3 separate regions of the Homo sapiens genome follow, and regions 2 and 3 are each reported to be linked to region 1. The links are microRNA targets in miRTarBase. Many come from high-throughput screens and were not tested one by one. Region 1 holds a microRNA gene; each other region holds the end of a gene's coding sequence.

Region 1 (5,071 bases):
TGGAGAACTCCATCATCCCTGTGCACAAGCAGACGGAGAATCTGCAGCGGCTGCAGGAGAATGTTGAGAAGACGCTGTCCTGCCTGGACCATGTCATCAGCTACTACCATGTGGCCAGTGACACTGAGAAGATCATCAGAGAGGGGTGAGTGAGTGAGGCCCAGAGGGTCAATTCCTAATGCCTCCTGGGCCAACAGGAGGGTTGGTCTGTAATCCCAACAATTTGGGAGGCTGAGGTGGGAGGATCGCTTGAGACTAGGAGTTCAAGACCAGTCTGGACAACACAGTGAGACGCCTTTTAAGCCCTAGGCCTTAAAAGGCAGTGGGGGGATAGAATATATTTGAGCCTGGAGTCCCCTGTATTAATTTTCTTTTTCCCAAATACTGTGTCCTTAGTCCTTCTTCATCCCCCATGCCCCAGCCTGACCTGGCTCTTTTCTTTCCCAGCCCCACAGGTAGGCTGGAAGAGTACCTGGGAAGCATGGCCAAGATTCAGAAGGCAGTGGAGTATTTCCAGGACAACAGCCCAGACAGCCCGGAACTCAACAAAGTGGTAAGGGGTCCGCAGAATAACGTGAGAAGCTTGGGGATATCAGTCTCTGCCCTGGTCTCATGAGGGACATGGAGCCAGCTTGAGGATGTATGCAGTAGAATACACAGAAGGATATAGCACAGTACATCCTATAGGCATTAGGATCTCTGCTTCAAGAATTGCACATTTTTTATTATTAAAAATTCTTTATTATAAAACTTGTTAATGTATTATAAAAATTAAATTATAAATTACATATAAAATATAAACTTAACATTTGATTTGTTGTTGTTGTTGTTGTTGTTGTTGTTTTTTCCTGAGACAGAGTCTTGCTCTGTCACCCAAGCTGGAGTACAGTGCTCAGCTCACTGCAACCTCTGCCTCCCAGGTCCATGTGATTCTCCCACCTCAGCCTCCCAAGTAGCTGGGATTACAGGCACTCGCCACCGCACCTGGCTAATTTTTGTATTTTTAGTAGAGACGGGGTTTCGCCATGTTGGCCAGACTGGTCTCGAACTCCTGACCTCAGATGATCCCCCGCCTTGGCCTGGGATTACAGGCGTGAGCCATTGCACCCAGCCACGTTTGATTTTTATAAATGCATTTGTTGTTCCTTTATTTTGGTTAAAAATACATAATATAAATTTTTTTTTTTTTTGAGATGGAGTTTTGCTCTTGTTTCCCAAGCTGGAGTGCAATGGCACGATCTCGGCTCACTGCAACCTCTGCCTCCGAGGTTCAAGTGATTCCCCTGCCTCAGCCTCCTGAGTAGCTGGGAGGGTGTGCGCCACCACTCTCGGCTAATTTTTTTTTTTTTTTGTAGTTTTAGTAGAAACGGGATTTCACCATGTTAGCCAGTTTGGTCACAAACTTCTGACCTCAGGTGATCCGCCCGCCTCAGCTCCCAAGGTGCTGGGATTACAGGTGTGAGCCACCGTGCCTGGCCAAAATGTGCTATTTTAACTCTAAGTTAACAGTGGCATTAAGTAGATTCACAATGTTATGTAGCCATCACCATTATCTCCACAAATATGTTCATCTTCTCCAAGTGAAACTCCACTCCCATCAAACACTAATTTCCCATTCTCCCTTCCTCTGTCTTCTGGTAACCACCATTCCACTTTCTGTTTCTGTGAATCTACTCTAGGAACTTGAATCTATGTGATTTTTTTTTTTGCATTATTATCTTAAGAGACAGGATCTGGCTTTGTCATCTAGGCCAGACTGCAGTGGTACAACCATAGCTACTGCAGCCTCGAACTCCTGGGCTCAGGCAGTCTTCCCACCTCAGCCTTCCAAGTAGCTGGGCCCACAGGCATGTGCAACCATACCCAGCTAAGTTTTAAATTTTTTGTAGAGATGAGGTCTCCTGTGTTGTTCAGGCTGGTCTCAAACTACTGTCCTCAGGTGATCCTCCCACCTTGGCCTCTCAAAGTGTTGGGAGGGATTACGGGCATTACCCACTGTACCTGCCTTCATCATATTTTTGTGTTTAAGTTTTGGGGTCATTAGATCATCAGAGCAAGATGGTGACTTGGCCTCTGGAAATCACAAATCTATTTTCTGTCTTTATGGATTTGCCTATTCTGAATTTCTAATATAAATGGTATCTTATAATACATGGCCTTTTGTGACTGGCCTCTTTCACTTAGCGTGATGCTTTCAAGATCAATCCATGCTATAGCATGTATCAGTACTTCATTTCATTTTCATGCCATATGATATTCCTTTTTGTGGATAGACCACAGTTTCTTTTTTTGGTTTTTTGTTTTGTTTTGTTTTTTGAGACGGAGTTATGCTCTTGTTGCCCGGGCTGGAGTACAATGGCGCAATCTTGGCTCACTGCAACCTCCACCTCCTGGGTTCAAGCGATTCTCCTGTCCCAGCCTCCCGAGTAGCTGGGATTATAGGTGCCTGCCACCACACCGAGCTAATTTTTTGTATTTTTAGTAGAAACGGGGTTTCACCATGTTGGCCAGGCTGGTCTTGAACTCCTGACCTCAGGTGATCTGCTTGCCTCGGCCTCCCAAAGTGCTGGGATTACAGGCGTAAGCCACCGTGCCCAGCCAGACCACATTTTCTTTAGCCATTTATCCTTTGATGGACACTTGGGTTGTTTCCAATTTTTGTCTCTTGTGAATAATGCTGCTATAAACCCTCTTATATATGTCATCGTGTGGACAGATTCATTCTCTTTTATGTTTGGGATACCTGTCTTTTATCAGATACATAGTTTACAAATATTTTCTCTCATTCTGTGGGTTATCCTCACTTTGTTGGTGGTATCATTTGCAGCACAAAAGTTTTCAACTTGATATTGTTCAATTTATTTATTTATTTTCTTTTGCAAACCCCCCACTAACAAGAAGACAAATTAACGGTTCAGTGAGAAAATAATCGGCCAGTATTTTTTTTTTTTTTTTTTTGAGACGGAGTCTCACTCTGTTACCCAGGCTGGAGTGCAGTGACGCAATCTTGGCTCACTGCAAGCTCCGCCTCCTGGGTTCACACCTTTCTCCTGCCTCAGCCTCCCGAGTAGCTGGGACTACAGGTGCCCACCACCACGCCCGGCTAATTTTTTTTTTTGTATTTTTAGTAGAGATGGAGTTTCACCTTGTTAGCCAGGATGGTCTCGATCTCCTGACCTTGTGATCTGCCCGCCTCGGCCTCCCAAAGTGCTGGGATTACAGGCGTGAGCCACCGTGCACGGCCAATCAGCCAGTATTTATTAAGCACCTACTTCTTGTAAAACCCTGGGTTTTACCTGTAAACACAAATTTTGAGAGAACATGAAGTAAAGGAGTCACCAAGGCCGCTTCCCAGCGTTTCTTCTTTGGGTTAAAGGATATCAGGGCAGGCCAGGTGCAGTGGCTCATGCCTGTAATCCCAGCACTTTGGGAGGCTGAGGCGGGTGGATCACCTGAGGTCAGGAGATCAAGACCATCCTGCCAACATGGTGAAACCCCGTCTCTACTAAAAATACAAAAATTATCTGGGCATGGTGGCACGTGCCTGTAATCCCAGCTGCTCAGGAGGCTGAGGCAGGAGAATTGCTTGAACCAGGAAGTCGGAGGTTGCAGTGAGCCAAGATTGTGTCACTGCACTCCAGCCTGGTGACAGAGCGAGACTCCCTCTCAAAAAAAAAAAAGATATCAGGGCAGAAAAGGGCAGAGGCCCTGAGTTAAGAAGACAGAGCTGGCACAGGCAGGGGAAGGCCAGGACTGGCAGAACACTGAAGCAGCAGGCACCTGCTTCCTTCTGTTGTCTGTGCAGAAACTGCTCTTTGAGCGCGGGAAGGAGGCCCTGGAGTCCGAATTTCGCAGCCTGATGACGCGGCACAGTAAGGTCGTCTCGCCCGTGCTCATCTTGGATCTGATCAGTGGTGACGATGATCTGGAGGCCCAGGAGGACGTGACCCTGGAGCACCTGCCCGAGAGCGTGCTCCAGGATGTCATTCGCATCTCCCGCTGGCTGGTGGAATATGGCCGCAACCAAGGTAAGGGATTCTGGCTTGGCCACATGACACACCAGAGGCAGAGGGAGTTTTCTCCCCTTTGTTCTTTTTTTTTTTTTTTTTTTTTTTTTTTTGAGATGGAGTCTTGCTCTGTTGCCCATGCTGGAGTGCAATGGTGCAACTCGGCTTGCTGCAGCCTCTGCATACCCGGGTTCCAGCGATTCTCCTGCCTCAGCCTCCCGAGTAGCTGGGATTACTGGCGCATGCCACCATGCCTGGCTAAGTTTTGTATTGTTAGTAGAGATGGGGTTTCACCATGTTGGCCAGGCTGGTCTTGAACTTCTGACCTCAGGTGATCTGCCCACCTCAGCCTCCCAAAGTGCTGGGATTACAGATGTGAGCCACCATGCCTGGCCCCCTTTATTCTTTAATCCACCTGTCATGGTTTTTTTGATAAAAGGATGTTTAACTGGAACCAATATAAGAATATAAGCAACCATTCTATGACTTGTATATCAAGTGGTGAATCTAGGCAAATTCAAACTTTTCTTGTCTTGATTTTTATGTTCCTTTGCCTTTTTTGATTAGTTGTAAAATTTTCAAAGCCATGGGTGAAAAGTAAAAGTCCATCTCCCATTCCCTGATGCCTCCATTACATAAGCCAAAGATGAGCACTATTAAGGTTTATTTATGCCAGGTGCTGTGGCTATGCCTGTAATCCTAACAGTTTGGGAGGCTGAGGTGAGTGGATCGCTTCAGCTCAGGAGTTCGAGACCTGGCCAACATGGCAAAACCCTGTCTCTACAAAAAATAAAAAAATTAGCTGGGTGTGGTGACGCATGCCTGCAGAGCCAGCTACTTGGGAGGCTGAGGTGGCGGGGAATGACTTGAGCCTGGGAGGTGGAGGTTGCAATGAGCTAAGATCACGCCACTGTACTCCAGCCTGGTTGACAAAGTGAGACTCTTGTCTCAAAAGAAAGAAGGCCAGGTGCAGTGGCTCATGCCTGTAATCCCAGCACTTTGGGGGGCCAAGGTGGGCGGATCACCTGAGGTCAGAAGTTCAAGACCAGCCTGACCAACATAGA
Region 2 (5,068 bases), not on the chromosome of region 1:
ATTGAGAAAAAAGACACGTCTATAGTGACAAAAGTACATAAATATCTAAAACCAGATGATTGGAGCAAGATGGCAGATAGATCCCATGCCCCACTCAACATTCCATTGAACTGGGATGAAAATGTTTTCAAGGGTCAATTCTTAACAGTAGAGGAAAATAGGAAAGCGTGTCAGTGGTCCACCAGGAATACTGAGGCATACCTGGGAGACAGAGTAGATGGGATCAGACTGATAGAGAAACCCAAGGAGACAAGACCACAGCTCAAATCACTATAGGCGAGAGATGCTGTCTGAGACAGAGACTTACTCTGTCGCCCAGGCTGGAGTGCAGTGGCATGATCTCGGCTCACTGCACCCTCCGTCTCCCAGGTTCAAGGGATTCTCCCGCCTCACTCCCTGCAGTAACTGGAATTCACAGGCCAGCCACCACTACCGGCTAATTTTTGTATTTTTAGTAGAGACGGGGGTTTCACCCTGTTGGCCAGGCTGGTCTCAAACTCTTGATCTCAAGTGATCTGCCTGCCTCGGCCTCCCGAAGTGCTGATATTACAGTGTGGGTCACCGCGACCGCCCAGGAGACGCTCTTTGTAACAAAGCCTCTGAAAATCTCCAAACCCTGAATCAAAGAAAACACGGAGCTGGAAAGGGCCTTAGGAAAATCATCATGTAAGTTAATTTAAAAGTTCATCAGAAACGTCTGAATCAGCCAGATTCCCCTCCAACACCACAGACAGATTGGCTGGCAGTAGCCACTTTTGCCTCTAAGATGAAACTCTGATAATTATTCATTAAAGAAACTGAAGGCCTGGCGAGGTGGCTCACACTTGTCATCCCAGCACTTTGGGAGGCTGAGGCAGGAAGATTGCCTGAGGCCAGGGGATCCAGAACACCCTGGGCAACATAGTGGATGCCGTCTCTACAAAAAAATACAAAAACCAGCTGAGTGTGGTGGTGTGTGCCTGTAGTCCCAGCTAGATCGGAAGCTGAAGTGGGTGAATCCCTTGAGCCTGGGAGATCGAGGCTGCAGTGAGCAGCCTCGATCACTGCATCACTGCACTCCAGCCTGGGCGACAGACTGCGATACTGTCTCAAAAAAAAAAAACACGAAAAAGAAATGTATCAGGACTTGGTGTAACTTCAGCCCTTCACAGTAATAATGAAGTAGAGAAACACATTTGTGGAGAGGGGACCATGTTCACTCTTTATCCATGATAGACAGATAGTCGGGAGCTTTATATACCCAAGGAACCTAAGGAAAAATGTTCCCTGTCATGACTCACAATCTTCCAGCCACCCTTCCTTGCACCTGTCTTGTGGGCTGGGGGACCCAACTTATGGATCCCATCATCCCAGGGAGAAAGAAAAGTCAAATCCTTCAGTATCTCTTTTAGGGTATTCTCTCCTCTTTGCATGGAGGATAAGGCACTCAATATCTAGTATCGGAATGTTACATTTGTGTAATACAGAACTATATTGGGATAAAATAGAATTTGTTTCTTCTGAGACACAGGTAGAGGCACGTCCACACTGACCTGGGTGGAAGCCATCTCTTCCTGAAGTGCCAGGCAGGGCATGCTCACAGATCTGGGGAACCTCTGTTGCTCCTGGAGCCCCACAACCTCCTTCCTGGCACCCTCTCCCTCTGGTGGCTGTGACAGCCCACACTTGGCCTTGGGTATCCCCTGCTTCTTTGCCTGCCCCTCTTCTGCCCACCCTGCATATCTCTGTCTCCCACTGTCCCTGCTGTGACCATGACCGCCTCTCCCTCCCCGCACTCTCTCTCTCCTAGGGCTCCTTGTCTTGGGAAAATGAACCCACAGCCTCTACCTTGCAACTGGGGACAGAACCCGGAGTTTGTTCAATTCTCCCTCCCTCCACCACACACACCTGTCCTCCTTAATGTTTCTGAAGTCAGTGAGCTCCAAACTCAGCTCCTCCTGCACCTGCCAGCTGTAGGACCTGTGACAAGACACCTACCATCTGTCTGGGACTCTATCTCTCATCTATCATATAGGCATAATGATCATAGTGTTCTCCTTCCAAGGCTGGGGAGAACCAGGAGGCCAAGGTGATGGGGTATGAATGGTCAAAACAGCTCCAATCCTGCCTCCACCTGGGGCTGCTGTTTCAAGTCCGTTGTGTTTCAAGCATTAATGTCTCCATTCACACACAATGGTTTGTTCTAAAACAGACTCCCCTCTGCCCTTCCCTTCCCCACAACTGTTTCACCTCTGCACCGTGCAGTGGTACCTGTGAGAAAGAACTGTCCCATTCCCAAATCATCGTCTCCACCCCAGCCCCCAGGCCCTTGGGTGGTGAGACCCTTGATGGGCAGTCTCATGCTTCTGTCCAGGGGACTTTCCCACCGTTGCTCCCCCGCATGGAGACTAAGTGAACTCTTCTATTCCCTGGCCATCACAGGGTCTACAGTGCACGCATCTTCCCCATCCCTCTGCATTCCCCAGATGATGATTTCATCTGTGTCTCCTACCACATACTCCCAAATGGACCGTCCCAGCCCTAGAACCCGAAAATCGTTCAGAGAGCAAAGGCCAAGATTCCCAACCACCTGCTGCAGAATACTGCTCCAGGACTGAAGTGTATAGTCTCTATCAAAATAAAAACTGGAGGCCAGTTGCGGTGGCTCATGCCTGTAATCCCAACATTTTAGGAGGCCAAGATGGGAGGATCGCTTTGGCCCAGGAGTTCGAGACCAGCCTGGGTAATATAGGGAGACTTTCTTGACAAAACCTGAAAAAATTAGTGGGTCATGATGGTGTGTGCCTGTAGTCACAGCTTCGCTGGAGGCTGAGGTGGGAGAATCGCTTGAGCCCAGGAGATCAAGGCTGCATTGAGCTATGATCATGCCACTGCACTCCAGCTTGGACAGAGTAAGACCCTGTCTCTAGAAAAAAGCAAAAAAAACCCAACAACTGGAAACATCCTCCTCTAGAATGGTGGTCAGGAACATCTGTCTGCCCTGTTCCCTGATGTCTCTTCAGCACCTATAACAGCGCTCAGCACGAGGACGCACTCATTAGGGTTTTGTTGAATAAATGACTCCTTTGACACAGCAATTCCACTTCTAAGAATCTTTCCTAAAGAAATATTCACACAAGTGCACAGAGCTGTGTGCACAATAATGAGAGGAGCAAACAACTGGGGAACGTTTGCAAAGGTTTATTAACTGGCAGTGACTGATAGAGGGGAATCGGATGAGGGGAGTACATGCTGAACAGGAAACAGAGTGAGGGGGGCTTGACCAGGACACATGGGGAAAAGCAGTTGGGAGATGCCTATACTGGTACTTGGTGTGTGTGTGTGTGTGTGTGTGTGTGTGTGTGTGTGTGCGCGCGCGCGCGCATGTGTGTCTGTGTGGCATGTGTGTGTGTTTGTGTAAATGCAGAGGAAAAAATCTGAAATTAAACACTCAGAACTGCCCTCAGTGGTCACATCTGGGAAGAGAGGAGGGTAGTGTTGTTCTATGCAGAGAATACCTGACGATACTTGTTTTCTGAGGTAGGTGCATGGATACACAAACTGAAATATGCATTAAGTATGTCTTGCTCATCAGTGAAAACGCTAATATCTAACAGAATGGCACACTGTAACAAAATACAACAGAAACACTAACATCGAACTCTTGGCACACTAAGAAAAATGACGCTCAACTTTTCACTGTTGTGAACACTTGCTTTCACTTGCTATACACCTGATGACGAGGGATCCGCAGCCATGCCCATGTTCGTGAAAGGTCACCACGTTCTGCTTCTCATCATGGGCATGTGTCATATCCCCGAGGCTGAGGCAAGAAGCGAGAAGGAAAGTAAGTGGCAGTGAGTTCCCACCACATGACAACTCAATCTCAACTCCTCCTGACCTGCAGACCCTGCCCACTCCGATTCTGCCCTACCTCAGGACCTGTACACGCCTTCCATGGTTCCTTGAAGTGAACCATCTGCTCATACCACAGTGACTTCCTCGCCTGGGTTATCAATTCCTAGGCTAGAGGAAGGTGTGGCCCGCATATCAGTGCTGACCTGGGGTTTGGGAACCCACAGCATCCTGGGTAGGGAGGATCCCTGGATATAGAGGGCAGGGAGTAGAAAGAGCATGGTTAGGCAGGCGCAGAGGCTCACGCCTGTAGTCACAACACTTTGGGAGGCGGAGGCAGATGGATCACGAGGTCAGGAGATTGAGACCATTCTGGCTGACATGGCGAAACCCTGTCTCTACTAAAAATACAAGAAAAAAAATTACCCGGTCGTGGTGGCGGGTGCTTGTAGCCCCAGCTACTGGGGAGGCTGAGGCAGGAGAATGGCGTGAACACGGGAGGCGGAGCTTGCAGTGAGCCGAGATCATGCCACTGCACTCCAGCCTGGGGGAACAAAAGGAGACTCCCCCACCCACAAAAAAAAACATGGGAAATTTCATCATTCAGCCTCAATGCTGTACCCTAGAAAATTATGAGAAGGGAATGATTTGGGGAACAACTGATAAGATGGGATACCAGTACCATAACAGAATAGCACATCTGCAAGGATGTGGGAGATGAGCCAAAGGTTCACTTACGGAGTTACTCGTCATCTTCCTGAGGGTCGCTGATCTCTTCATAAATCACCAGTTGCTTTCTCTCACGCACTCTGTGGGTCCAGGCATGTTTCCCCCTTTTGGGTCCTATGATGGAGAAGAGTTGGAAGATGAGGGTTGGGTAGATTGGAGAGGGTTGGGTTGATTGGAGAGTGTTAGGCTCTGTTTTCTCCAAAAAAGGAGATGCCTCCCCACCACCAAGTGCCCATGGGTCTTCTTTATCCAGTTTTTCACATTCTCTGGCTTAGAGAGGCTGAGACCTTAGACCCACACCAATACAGGCCAAATGCAAATTAAAGTTTTAGCTTCTGGCTCCTTCCGTTGTCAGGTTTAGATTCCCAACCTCTTCACTTACGGGAACATTCACCCTTACCTCCTTTCATTCAGCACGTATTTATTAAGGCCACACAGGCGTACCTTGTTTTATTGCACCTCATTTTCATACTGCTTCACAGATGTTGCAATTTTTTTTTTGGAA
Region 3 (5,068 bases), not on the chromosome of region 1:
ACCTGGACAGAGCCCTGGGCAGGCAGTAGGGGGAGGCGCCACCCATGGCTGCAGTGGAGGGGCCAGGGCTGAGCCGGCGGGTCCTCCTGAGCGCGGCAGAGGGTGAGCCTCACAGCCCCTCTCTGGAGGCCTTTCTAGGGGATGTTTTTTTATAAGCCAGATGTTTTTAAAAGCATATGTGTGTTTCCCCTCATGGTGACGTGAGGCAGGAGCAGTGCGTTTTACCTCAGCCAGTCAGTATGTTTTGCATACTGTAATTTATATTGCCCTTGGAACACATGGTGCCATATTTAGCTACTAAAAAGCTCTTCACAAAATTGTCTGCTGTGTTTGTCCCTGAGGGGAGGAGGTAGTGGGACCCTGAGGCAGAGGCCCTGCTAGAGCTGGCAGGTTCCCCTGGGGCAGACCAGAGCACCTCAGGAAGGGGCTGCCACGGCAGGGAAGGGACCAGGCAGCCCTGGGAGCCCGCATTCCACAGGGGCCCACTGCGGAGTTCTCGGACACTCAGGGCACAGGCCTGTGGGTTCCCTGGAATTTTCTAGCATGATCCAGTTTCTGTGTCCAGTTCTCCATTCTGAGAGTCAATCAGTTCCTGATAGGTTGTCATTGATTTTTTTCTTCGTTGGTTTTAACCTTCTAAACATCTCCAGGCCACTTTCTTAGCCTTTTTCTAGGTACTAAAAAGAGGTCCTACCCACACCTGCCTCACACTTCTCCTTTCCAAGGCTGCCTGAGTTTGGAGGGGCTTGGGTGTGTGTGAACAAGGGCCCTGCATTGTCTAGGCCTGCAGTTCCCAGGCTTGGGTTCACTTTCACCATGCATTGGCAAAACTAGAAAAGTAAGCTTGTGACAAATTGTTCTCGGCCGGGCACAGTGGCGCACGCCTATAATCCCTGTACTTTGGGAGGCTGAGGTGGGTGGATCACTTGAGGCCAGGAGTTCGAGACCAGCCTGGCCAACATGGTGAAACCCCATCTCTACTCAAAATACAAAAATTAGCCAGGCGTGGTGATGCGCACCTGCAGTCCCAGCTACTCGGGAGGCTGAGGCAGGAAAATGGCTTGAACCTGGGAGGCAGAGGTTGCAGTGAGCCGAGACTGCACCACTGCACTCCAGCCTGGGTGACAGAGCAAGACTCTGTCTCAAAAAAAAAAAAAAAAAAAAAAAAAAAAAAATTGCTCTATGCAAGTTTTTTAGCCCCATGTAAAAAGGAAAAATAAAAGTTGCTCTAAAGCTACATATAATCAAAAGGACTGTCCTCTGCATAGTAAGTTCTGCAAAGCTTCTTCTTTTTGGTGTTAAAATGTCCTGGAGAAGAGTTGTATAATCTTTATAAAGTCCTGGCCAGGTGTGGTGGCTCATGCCTATAGTCCCAGCACTTTGGGAGGCCAAGGTGGGAGGATCACTTGAGCCCGGGAGTTTGAGGCTGTAGTGAGCTATGACTGCACCACTGTACTCCAGCCTGAGTAACAGAGTGAGACCCCATCTCTCAAAACCCCATCTTACAAAGTCCCTTTCCTAAATACTGGGGGGACTCCTATGGCTCCTGAAACCCGACCATTGCGGTAGACTGAGTGGCTTTGGAAGGGCTCTAGCCCTCCATCCACACTGGTGACCCCCCGCTTGCTTTTCCTGAGTAATGCCCTGAAACTCTCAGGGCTATAAGAAGAAACGTGGACTGCTGGCTCTAGCAGGCCCAGCCCCTGGGAGGAAGCTCAAGGCTTCCTGCCTCTTCTTGCCTGTCACCAGCACGGGGCTGGCAGCTCTGCAGAACGCAGCCTCTGAAGCCCAGCCTGGCATCGGGAGCTGGCTTCTTTCCTGAAGCCATGTGGGTGGGTAGGGAGGGGAAGCAGCTTTTCTCTGCAAGTGGTGGGAATACAGGGGCCGTGGCCCACACCACTCTCTTGGGCCCGGGGCAGCTGGCTATAGGCGCCTGGCCCTGCAGGGGGCCATTCCAGTGCAGAGGATGGTCTCAGCCTCCCCCGGGCCCTGGGAGAGTGCAGCCCTGCTGTGTGGGGCTGGGAAGTTTTGCTGGGAGTTCCTGCTGGGAGTGAGGGCCAGGTCCCCAAGAGCTGGGGAAAGAAGCATTTGCAGTCACCTCACTAAAGAATATTCATTTATTTATAATTATTGCTAAGTAAACTTCTCTTTTAAACAGGAACATAAAAACACAGTAGGGCTTTGCACAAGTGGAATCTCTAAACAGTTGGTTTGTATACATGTCAAAATAAGTTAGAATGGAATTTGTCCAGGAGTTTCCAAGTCACCCGAGAGGCTGTGCACCTCTTTTGAGAAGGTTAGGGAGGGGTACAGACAGGAGCCTTGCCAAGACCACCCCCCAGCTCAAACTGTGAGTTGTGCTGTTTCCTCCTCCTAGCTTTGCCCAGGTCCAAGGCACAGGGCAGGGGGCGTTCAAGTATCGAACCTCACAGAGGGCCAGTGCTGACGGCGGGGCTGGGGGAGGGAAAGGAGAGCCCCACCCTGGGGGCCAGACCTTCTCCCTTCAGTTTCCAAGACCAAGGCCACTGCACTGGCAGGAGGGAGGAGGAGGAGGAGAGGTACAGGGTTCTTTTTGGTACCAGGGGAGAAAGACGTGGGAAGAGGTAGTTGCAGGGGATGATGCCTTCTGCTCAGCAGGAGAAAATGTCTTATACAGTGACGGGGTCACTGCCACCTGAGGGTCATCATGGCGGGCACCTGGGAGGTCGTGGGGCTTCGGGGTCTGGAAGCCATACTTGGGCCACCTTGTCCACCCCTCAGTCCTGATCACAGTCACCCTGAGGCCTGGCTTGGTCCTTCACTTAAGGATCCAGCCTTGGGGGTGGCTGCGCTGCAGATTGGTTCCTCCCACCGCAGGCTGTTCCCTTCTCCGGGTTTCTAGGCTGAAGCTAGTGGCTTCATCTGTGCCTTTGGGGAAGACCCCTGCTTGCCCCTCCCCACTGAGGCCTCAGGAGGCAAGTGGGTGGGGGGGTCCGGGTGCCCTAGAGTTCCTGAATGTGCTATTTCACTGCCCTGGGCCTGTCATCTCTGGTTCCAGGGGCAGGAGCTGGCGTGGGAACAGAGGGGAAGAGAGCAGGCGAGCGAGGGAGCTAGCTGTTGGCTGAGCAGAGTCAGCAGCCCTGACAGCCGAGGATGGGACATGGGACAGAGCAAGTCAGCGACTGCAGGAGCCAGGCAGGGGTGGAGGGCTTCCCAGCTCTGCCTTCTCCTGCCTCCCACCCCAGCCTGCTGAGGCTGCTGCCAGCGGCTGCACCTCCAGGGCCAGGGTGACAGTCCCCATGGAGCCCCAGTCCTGCCCGGCCAGGCTGCTCGGGGTGGGTGGGTAGGAAGCACGCACAGCACATTAGGAAGCTTACGCTTGGAAAAAGAAAATGCATCTCCATCAGAAAAGGTCATAGGTGACACACAGTTGGAAAGAAAAAAATAATAAGTTACCTTCAGAAGACCCCCTTTGCTCAAAAAAACCCTTGATTTCCCTCTGTGGGCTTTACTTTCCTTTTTAAAATACGTTGCTCTTTCCGGGAAGCTGCTGACTCGTGGCTATCCCCGTCGCAAGGTGGACACTGAGGAATGAGAAATGACTGCGGTCCCCCTCCCCGACAGGTGGTCCTGGGCCTCCCCCAAGGACAGCCCTTCTTGGTCCCCTGTGATGCCCTCACTCCGCCCTGCCCTGCCCCATGCTTCTGGTTTTGTTAGTGTGTGCCTGACGCGGGGCCTGTCCTGGCTTTGTTCCTAGTGGGGCCCCCTGGTGAGGCACTCCAGCTAGGGTCGAAGTGGACGACATGTGTTGCAATCCACTGTAGGGACACTCACTTCCAGAAAGGGATGTAGGACAGGGGTCTTCTGGGGGCTGGGTGCCCCCCAGCTGTCCTGCAGGCCAGGGCCAGGGCCACGTGCACACCTGGCTTGAGGAGCGCATGGGAGACCCCGGGAGGTAGAAGGCAGAGTGCCCTGCCTGGCGGTCCGTCGACAGGGCGGGGAAGGGGGCCTGGACAAGGTAGAGGTGGGCAGTACTGGCCAGAGGGGAGCTCAGACATCCTTAGAGGCAGGAGTTGGCCGTGAAAAAGACATGGCTCAAGTGGTCTCTTCTTCCAGTGTCAGGACCCCTGAAGAGCTCTGCTGGGCCTGGAGAGACCCCGAGGGCCGGTGCCCTTGTGACCTGTCCCCAGTGGCCCCACTTCTCCCACTCCCCACGGAAGCAGGCCAGGGAGACCCAGATCTGGGCCTCGCGTGTTCTCCTTCCCTTGCTGGGATGCCTGGGCCTGTGCTGGCTCACAGCCGGGGCCAGTAGTACAGTCTCCATTTGGTCTAAAGGTCCCTAGTGGTGCAAATGACTCGGGGAGGGAGGGCTCAGAACAGTGGGGCAGTAGCTTGTTTCTCGGCTGCAGGAGGTGCAGCCTGCAGCCCATGGGTCTCACCCCCATGCCCTCGCCCCCGGCCCCCGTTAGGGGTGGCCCAGCTTGCGCTATAGCACATTGTAGTAGGCCATCTCTTTCATGGCCTGTTCAGTGAGGACACTGGCCTCGGCGCTGCTGTCCACGCTCGCATAGCTGTAGGCGTTCTCCTCGAAGTCCTCCATCTCCTGCTGGCCGTCGAGCTCTGAAGGGTCAGTGCCTGTCAGCTCCATCATGGGGTCTGTAAGAGAGGGGCACAGTCAGACCTGGCTGCCATCTCTCGGGAGGAGCCAGTCACCCCCACGCAGGAAGCTGATGGCCTTTCTAAAGAGAGGGCTTCCCAGTCACGGCCTCCAGGAGTCTCAGCTGCCTCTCAGCCTTCCCACCCTCGGACGCCTCAGGGTCCTGTGGCTTCTAGCTGGGTGACCAGACCTAGGCCCCAAAGCTGAGTGTGGGGGAGTGGGTGCTATCAGTGAGGGCCTTTGTGGTGGAGAACTGCAGGCCTGGCCTTGAAGCCTTCTTTGGGTCATTCTTCCATTGACCCGTCAAAGTCACTAAGCCCTACTTATCCCTTCTCTGCAATGTTTCTCTGGCCACGGGAAGCTGCCTGCGTGACATCACCTTTGCAGCACTCATTAGCACCTGCTGCATGCCAGCCACTTCGCAGGCCTCGC

What was found. The annotated mature microRNA hsa-miR-6868-5p reads ACUGGCAGAACACUGAAGCAGC and lies in region 1 at 3,753-3,774, shown strand. An mRNA with a match to its seed (bases 2 to 7 or 8) in the 3' UTR can be bound and repressed. Matches are read on the target gene's strand: a 7mer-m8 pairs with bases 2 to 8, a 7mer-A1 pairs with bases 2 to 7 and ends in A, and an 8mer does both.
Region 2: miRTarBase lists SSX5 as a target of hsa-miR-6868-5p. Seed matches in the 3' UTR shown: 7mer-m8 at 3,188-3,194.
Region 3: miRTarBase lists ZNF710 as a target of hsa-miR-6868-5p. Seed matches in the 3' UTR shown: 7mer-m8 at 2,531-2,537.

What each region holds. Positions count from the first base shown.
Region 1 is chr17:76,096,753-76,101,823 of GRCh38, reverse strand. It overlaps MIR6868 (microRNA 6868), which reads left to right and starts at 3,748; the gene lies at 3,748-3,805. It overlaps EXOC7 (exocyst complex component 7), which reads left to right. Exons shown (of 19, transcript NM_001013839.4): 3 at 1-145; 4 at 448-553; 5 at 3,806-4,028.
Region 2 is chrX:48,183,055-48,188,122 of GRCh38, forward strand. It overlaps SSX5 (SSX family member 5), which reads right to left. Exons shown (of 8, transcript NM_175723.2): 7 at 4,573-4,677; 8 at 3,166-3,802. The coding sequence ends at 4,577. Among named protein-coding and RNA genes, the nearest start is that of SSX5, 11 kb to the right of the region's middle.
Region 3 is chr15:90,079,227-90,084,294 of GRCh38, reverse strand. It overlaps ZNF710 (zinc finger protein 710), which reads right to left. Exons shown (of 5, transcript NM_198526.4): 5 at 2,104-4,635. The coding sequence ends at 4,466. It overlaps IDH2 (isocitrate dehydrogenase (NADP(+)) 2), which reads left to right. Exons shown (of 11, transcript NM_002168.4): 11 at 1-1,250. The coding sequence ends at 29. It overlaps ZNF710-AS1 (ZNF710 antisense RNA 1), which reads left to right and starts at 2,088. Exons shown (of 2, transcript NR_146321.1): 1 at 2,088-2,856. RefSeq lists an enhancer at 1-317.